Linked DNA regions of Homo sapiens. The protein of the gene in region 2 interacts with the protein of the main gene of each other region in a biochemical or structural test. Each region holds a gene or a part of one and is shown on either strand. Other genes may lie near its edges.

The links.
Region 1: the proteins of TNKS (region 2) and INPP5K interact in a test that uses a peptide from one of them, tested with the Homo sapiens proteins (one large-scale study listed by BioGRID and IntAct).

Annotation. Positions count from the first base shown.
Region 1 is NC_000017.11:1,506,529-1,510,343, forward strand, and holds part of INPP5K (inositol polyphosphate 5-phosphatase K), read right to left. Parts: intron 3,272-3,815; coding exon 3,155-3,271; intron 2,826-3,154; coding exon 2,650-2,825; intron 1,699-2,649; coding exon 1,587-1,698; intron 562-1,586; coding exon 452-561; intron 1-451. UniProt on the Homo sapiens protein: Inositol 5-phosphatase which acts on inositol 1,4,5-trisphosphate, inositol 1,3,4,5-tetrakisphosphate, phosphatidylinositol 4,5-bisphosphate and phosphatidylinositol 3,4,5-trisphosphate.
Region 2 is NC_000008.11:9,562,366-9,566,180, forward strand, and holds part of TNKS (poly [ADP-ribose] polymerase tankyrase-1), read left to right. Parts: intron 1-3,815.

The DNA.
Region 1 (3,815 bases), on a different chromosome or scaffold from region 2:
AACTCTCTACCTACTACTTCACCTTCTCACACAAGACCTGACCCATTCACAGGCTGGGGCAGGCGTCCTTAATACCAGTAACTGGCTGGGCCAAGCTTTCTGCCCCGTTTGGGGACCAGAAGGTCTGGGGTTTCCCGAAGCTGAAGTGCAGTCCCTCCTAGGTCAGGAGGCAGCTGCTCCACCCTCTCCTCTGGTTCTATCTGTAACACCCCCACCCCCTACACACCTCTCCTGCCCTTGCTGGCACTGGCTTTCCTCCCACTCTCTCGAGATCTGGGACGGCTCCCCGAGTCAGCGCCTCATGAAGTGGACAGGAGGTGCCACTCTGGAGAGGGGATGACTAGACCAATTCCTGCCCCCCCTAACACTTCTATTCTGAGACAGTTCCCATGCCAGCAGGGTCAGTGTAACCTGACTTCCTAGACCTTCTGGCCCCCCACTCCCTCCTCACCTGGTGTCATAGTCGTTGGAGTTCCTATCAAACTTGTAGGTGGGCGGGAAGAGTAGGCGGCCCTCCTGGAACTCCCGGAGCAGCGGGTCATGTTTCTTGGCAATGCTGAGCTGCAGACAAAGTCATAGTCCCCGTCTCCCAGTAGTCTCGACCCAGTGGCCCAGTACCACACTCCATTCAAGGGATCAGCACATGCCGTCACAAATGGGGCAAGAGTCAAGCAATGCCACTCCAATTCCTCACTGCCCCAGTGACTACTCAGCAGCCCACTCCCACCAGAAAGCAGGCGAATCCTTTCGGAAACATTACCAAGGCCCAGGGGAGGCAGCTGTCTGCCGTTTCCCAGTCCTTAGACTGCAGGGACCCAACTTGGAATTCCATCTCTAGGGGAGATCACTAGCAGACATGTGTCAGAGGGGAACCTGGGGAAGCCAGGGTTCTCCAAAGGGGCACCTCACCCTCCAAGAGGGAAACGAGGCTGGGGATGGGAAAGACGACAGGGACACGATGGGCTGACGCATGATGGTACCTGGTGCAAAGCCCTTCTGGTTCCCTATTCTTCTTCTTTTTTTTTTTTTGAGATGGAGTTTTGCTTTTGTTGCCCAGGCTGGAGTGCAATGGCGCTATCTCTGCTCACTGCAACCTCTGCCTCCCGGGTTCAAGCGATTCCCCTACCTCAGCCTCCCGAGTAGCTGGGATTACAGGCACGTGCCACCACGCCCGGCGAATTTTTTTTTGTATTTTTAGTAGAGATGAGGTTTCTCCAAGTTGGTCAGGCTGGTCTCAAACCCCCGACCTCAGGTGATCCACCCACCTCGGCCTCCCAGAGTGCTGGAATTACAGGCATAAGCCACCGTGCCCGGCCCCTATTCTTCTTTTTTAAATAATTCATTTCATGCTTTGTATCTGACTCTCTATTCTAAAGCACATCCAGGGTCTGTTACCCTGGCTTTTCCATGTGAAGATCAGGCGTGGCTGCCTCACCCCTGGATGCGAAGCCCTGCTAGACAGCCTCCCCCACCAGACCTGGGCAAAAGAAAACAGCAGCGAGGGCATCTAGCAACACTCTGCACAGCTCACATGGCCCCCACCGTGGGCTCAGATCACCCCCTGGGACCCTCCCCTCACTGGATACCTGGTCCTTCTCCCACAGGCCACCGTAGCACCGATTTTTAATGGATTCCCGAACAAAGTGCAACCCAAAGTCCTCGATCCGAAAGTTCATGTCTCCAAACCAGATAATGAGGCTTCAGAAAAAAAGGAGGGCAGCCTGAGGATTTGTGATGAAGTCGGGGAAGGGAGATCACCAGGTGGCTCAGCCTGCTCAACCCAAGGGCTGCTGGGGCACAGAAAACCTGAGGGGCAAGTGAGACGCCAGGGCACGCGTGGGTCCTCTGGAACTGTTCTCATGGCTCCTAAACCACCATTCAAACCGGAGAGACCTACCAAAGAGCCTGCTCTGGCAAACACAGAGCAGGCTGTGGCCCTTCCTTCCTCTCCTTAACTGGTCACGAGGAAAGGCTGAGAAGCCCTCCTGGTGACCTCAGGAGCCACAAGGTCCTTGACCTGTTCCCAAGTGTTCAGGGTTTCTAAGCAAGACAGACGGGCTGGAGGAAGGGGACCCCAGGCAGGCAAAGCAAGGGGAGACAGCAGATGGGCACCAGGGAAGGGTCAGGGAGAGGGTGGGAGCCAGAACACTGACGACACTGGCTGGGGGATCCGTGATGGAGCAGAGGATGCTGGCTTGGGTTAGCGTGGGGCAGAGGGCGGGGAACAGTCTGCAGACCCAGGCTCACTCGTGGCGGTCAGCTGGGGCAGAGGGCGGGGAACAGTCTGCAGACCCAGGCTCACTCGTGGGGGTCAGCGTGGGGCAGAGGGCGGGGAACGGTCTGCAGACCCAGGCTCACTCGTGGCGGTCAGCGTGGGGCAGAGGGCGGGGAACGGTCTGCAGACCCAGGCTCACTCGTGGGGGTCAGCGTGGGGCAGAGGGCGGGGAACAGTCTGCAGACCCAGGCTCACTCGTGGCGGTCAGCGTGGGGCAGAGGGCGGGGAACAGTCTGCAGACCCAGGCTCACTCGTGGGGGTCAGCGTGGGGCAGAGGGCGGGGAGCGGTCTGCAGACCCAGGCTCACTCGTGGGGGTTAGTGGGGGTTAGCGTGGGGCAGAGGGCGGGGAACGGTCTGCCAGACCCAGGCTCACTCGTGGTCCAGGATGTTTGGGATGTCTCGCCCCTCACAATTCTGCATCTCCAGGATCCGGTCAAAGTGCTCCAGCCGCTGGTAATTGTTGGAAATGTGGGGAGGCAGGTGGCAGTTGATGATGCTGACATAGTAGCCATAAAGCTTCAGGCAGATGTTGACTCCACCTTTGTTCCCCTGGTAGAACAGGTCAACAGAAGAGTGGGAAGCTACTCGGGTTGGACACACCCCTCTTTCCACATCCTGGACCTGAGGGCAGACAGTCTCACTTCCTGCAGGGTCTCCTAGGGACAGTAACTAAGCTTCCCAGGGTGATCTCTCCATGCACAGAGCCCAGCTCGCCTCGCCTGGCCTCAGGGATAGCAAGCCCACTCTGAGGCAAAAGAACAAACATGCATTGGGCTGGACAGAGGACCAAGATTCCTTTCACTTCCTTTTTCTTTTGCCCAGCTCCACAGTTCCCAGCCCTTCCCAGCTCACGACTCAGACAATAGCTCAGTCCTTACCCAGTACCCAAACAGGCCAGTGGGGGTGGATTTAGTAGACAGAATCTGGATATAGGGCAAATGCTGATACTTGGCAAAGACCAGTAAGAGGATCCCCTGCATACGGACATGGGAGACCTGCAGGAGAGAGAGGGCAAAGGTCGCTCATTAAACCACACAGGCCAAGTGCATCCCTTCCAAGCTCCGTGCTAGGGACTCTAGAGAGCCCTCAGCTACATGCAGTGTCCTGCTCCAGGGTCTACGATATCCCAGTTTGAATCTCAGAGTTTCAAGCCTTTCCATTCTTCTTCTCAGCTGCCAAATGATACATTCTGGGGGCTGAGGTTTTCGATTCTGCGCCTAGGCGTGCGGGTGGCGGGAAGAGAAGATAAGCTAAGGATACTGGCTTTGAAGTTAGATCTGGGTTCAAACCCTGGCTCTGATTCTTAGTATTTGACATTGAGGCAGTTTCTCAGTGTATTTTCTCATTGATAAAGTAGGAATCCATCTCATAGATGCTGTGGGGATTATCTGAAAGCTATTATTTTTTGGTTTCAGCATTCTTTTTTTTTTGAGACGGAGTCTCGCTCTGTCGCCCAGGCTGGAGTGCAATGGCGTGGTCTCGGCTCACTGCAACCTCCACCTCCTGGGTTCAGGTGATTCTCCTGTCTCAGCTTCCCAA
Region 2 (3,815 bases):
TTTCTCTGACTCATCACCTGGATAAGAACTTTTATCTGGCCCCAAGTCATAGAAGTTCTCATACATATCCTATGAAAATCTTTATGATTTTAGCTACATTTTATCAGATGTGACTATATCCACTTCAGTATTCTTATGCTGTGTGTGGCATTTTTCTATTCATTCACTTTCAATCAATCTGCCTTTATATTTAAAGTGTGTCTATTATAGACAGTATATATGTGAGTGTTGCTTTTTAAGACATTCTGACAATCTGTGTCTTTTAATCTACCTCATTAACTAATATTGATACTTCCAATTCAAACTCAGAACTATAGGGTTTTTACTTACCTCTTCTATGTTGCATCTGGCCATCATTTCTTCCATACCTAAACTTTTATTTTTCAAGGACCTGCTAAGAGCTGTTAATGTTGAAGGTCTGATGAGAATGGGAATTTCCTTCCCTTAGCCTTTTTTTTTTCTTTCTAGATGGGCAAAGGATTTTTTTTTTCTCTTCCATTAAAGACCAGATATTCTATTACAGTATGTCTTGGTGTTCGTTTCTCTAGATAGATTTTCTCAGGTATGTGGTATGGCTTTTCTTTACATAGTTTCAGATCTTTTATTTCAGAAAAGTTTCTCAAATTATACTTTTTATTATTCGTTCTTTTCTTTTTATGTATATTGAAACTTTGCCTCTTCTAAATTTGTTACTTGCTCCATTTCTTTAATACGATATATGTAAAATTTACCATTTTAACCATTTTAAGTGTACAGTTTTGTGGCATTAAGTTCATTCGCCATGTTATGCAGCCATCACCATTGTCCATTTCCAGAACATTTTTTGTCATCTTAAATAAGCTCTTGTACCCATTAAACTATGTCTATCTGCCCCCAAACCCCTGATAACTGTCACTTTCTTTTGAATCCTATTAAAAAATATATATCTTCTTTTTTTATTAACTTTTTTTCTCCTTTCATCTTCTATTTTTCTTAAGGCAGGAGTTGGAAACTTTCTGTAAATGGCCAGATAGTAAATATTTTAGGCTTTGTAGCCATATGGTCCCTCTCATAGCTACTCAGTTTTGCTTTTATACTGTGAAAGTTTCCATAGACTATATGTAAATGAATGAGTGTGATTGTGTTCCAGTAAAATTTTATTTATGAGAATAGGTGATGGGCCAGATTTGGTGTATGGGTTGTAGTTTGCTGACCTCTGTTATAAGGCATTATATGTGGCATTTTTTCCATTTTGTGTTCTTTCTTTTGTAGTCCTTTCTTGAAATTATTTTTTCTTTTATTTTGAATTATTTTCTGAACTCTCTCCTTTTATTTCTAACTCAGGCACATGCTATACGTTCATATCTTGTATCATTCTCGTATTCTCTTTTAGCTAGTGTTAAAATAATTGATTATAATTTTGTCTGCTTTGTGGGCATTTTTTTCTGTTAGGTATTAATTGTCTGCGGGGATGTTATTCTCCAAATTCTTCTTGTAAGAATTTTGTATGTATTTGACCTCAGTTACTTTCGTTGCTCATTTTTACAGAAATTAATTACTAAATAATTTCAAGGATAAAAATAAAGGTCTGAGATAGTTAAGGTAATCCCCCCTGTCCCTTTTTGTTGTGCTACACCTGCAGCTCTGGCCTAGAATAGATCAAGTCTCTCAGTAAGGTCTGCAGGATCATCTTTTACAGTAGTAGCATTTAAATTATGAAACATCATCATTTTATACCTCTGTTTATATAACCTATGAGACATTTTTTCAGGAACCTTAACCGGAGACATTGTGCTAAGGGCATTTTATAGATAAAGTCTCTTCCTGATAGATTACTATTTAGTCTTTTTGGTAAGTGTAGTCCAGTCACCTGTAAAGCATTCCCTACCCCATCAATGAATTGAATAGGTCACAGGCCAGGTGTTCTTTCCTGACGGGAAGTGATTCTTTGACAGTTAACAGGCCAGAGAAATACATTGGGAGGATAGGAGGCATATCATCAAAGGTCGAGTTGTGAGCATAAATATGTTAAAAAAAAAAATCTCAAGCTTAGAATCCAGAAGAAAAGTAATCAAGGAATGTGAATAATTCTGAGAAAATAAATTTTATTGTAATGTTAGGTTTGGTTTTGGAAAGGAATAAACATGAGCTCTGTGATGACATGAGGGAGAAAACACTATAGTAGTTTAGTCTTTAATATTTTTAACAGCCTCCTTTTGTGTCATAGACAAAGAATCTTTGGGTAGCTTACTATAAAATATTGCAGTAGATAAAATTGAAGGCAGTTGCTTCTTACCTTTTTATTTTTCCCCATGTCATTGTCCTTGAAGCTACTTTGGCTTATGTTTATTCTTCTGATAGCTAAGTTTTGGTGTAGCCCTGCTCTTGAGGCACCTAATACCATGCATCATTAATAGATACTTATAGTAAGAATTGAATAGGATTAGTTAAGATAAGATGGGTTGGAGTCTGAGGGCTAGGTGCAGCCTCCCCTTACGGGGCTTAATAAAACCAATGAAACATACACGAGAAAGAAACATTCAGAAATGGACTTTCAGTTTCTTGGTGAATAAAAAGCATTATATCTTCAAGAAAAAATGAGTAGGGTGGGTTTCCTAGGGATTTCTACTAAAGCCTAGGAGCTCAGGATAACCCCGGGGCTCATTAAAAAAAAAAAATCACTTTGATTTCAAGTAATTGAGGAAAGTTTTAGGTGTTTTGTTTTTGTGTGCCCGTTGTTTTTCTTTTAAGGCTTCATCAGATGTCTAAGTTTGCTTTCACCAGAGCGAGTTACTGAGTTCTCTTCTCGAATCTTGTTTTGCCAGTTTGTTCAGGTATCTGTTTATAGAATTAAAGCAGCGTGAGGGTAAACTTTTTTTTAAGCTGTTTTTTGGAGTGTGTCAGCTCCCCATTCAATTTAGACAAGTTATTTATTTATTTATTTATTTTGGTTTTGGAAGAGGGAAAATAACGTGATGTAAAATTTTTTCTCTATCCCTTTTGCCTTTTCAGTAGAACAAACTAAACTGCTGGTAGGTGGCAGATGTTTGGACTTGTTTATTTTTTCTTCTTTGGTATATTTTCTTTTAAAGTGAGGAAGCATTTGGTAGTTAGCAGATGATTTCCATGAACTACAAGTCCAAACTGAACAAAATTTGTTTTAAATTTACTGATTGACTCAAAAAACCTTAAAGCTATAGTCTCTGTGTCATTAGTTCAAAAATAAACTAAACCAGCCAGGCGTGGTGGCTCACGCCTGTAATCCCAGCACTTTGGGAGGGCGGATCACAAGGTCAGGAGATGGAGGCCATCCTGGCTAGCACAGTGAAACCCCGTCTCTACTAAAAATACACACACACAAAATTAGCCTGGCGTGGTGGCGGGCGCCTGTTGTCCCAGCTACTCGGGAGGCTGAGGCAGGAGAATGGCGTGAACCCCGGAGGCAGAGCTTGCAGTGAGCCGAGATCACGCCACTGCACTCCAGCCTGGGTGACAGAGCAAGACTCCGTCTCAAAAAAAATAAAAATAAATAAAAATAAAAATAAACTAAACTCCCTGATGCCTTGTTAAAGTGTGTGTATACACACTTTTTTGTGTCTACATGTATATAACTTATTATATATGTCAAATTATATGTTGACATATATATTATATACATAGTAAGTAGACATTGAAAAGTTCTGATGCCCTCATTCTGATAATACTCATCAACCGTAGAAACCATTTTGACATTCTCATCAGTCATGTTAATAAGATGTGCAGGTCTCCTCTTCCAAATGCTTGGGTTATTCTCATGTTGACTGTGGAAATTTGGTATTTTCAAAAGAAATGACATA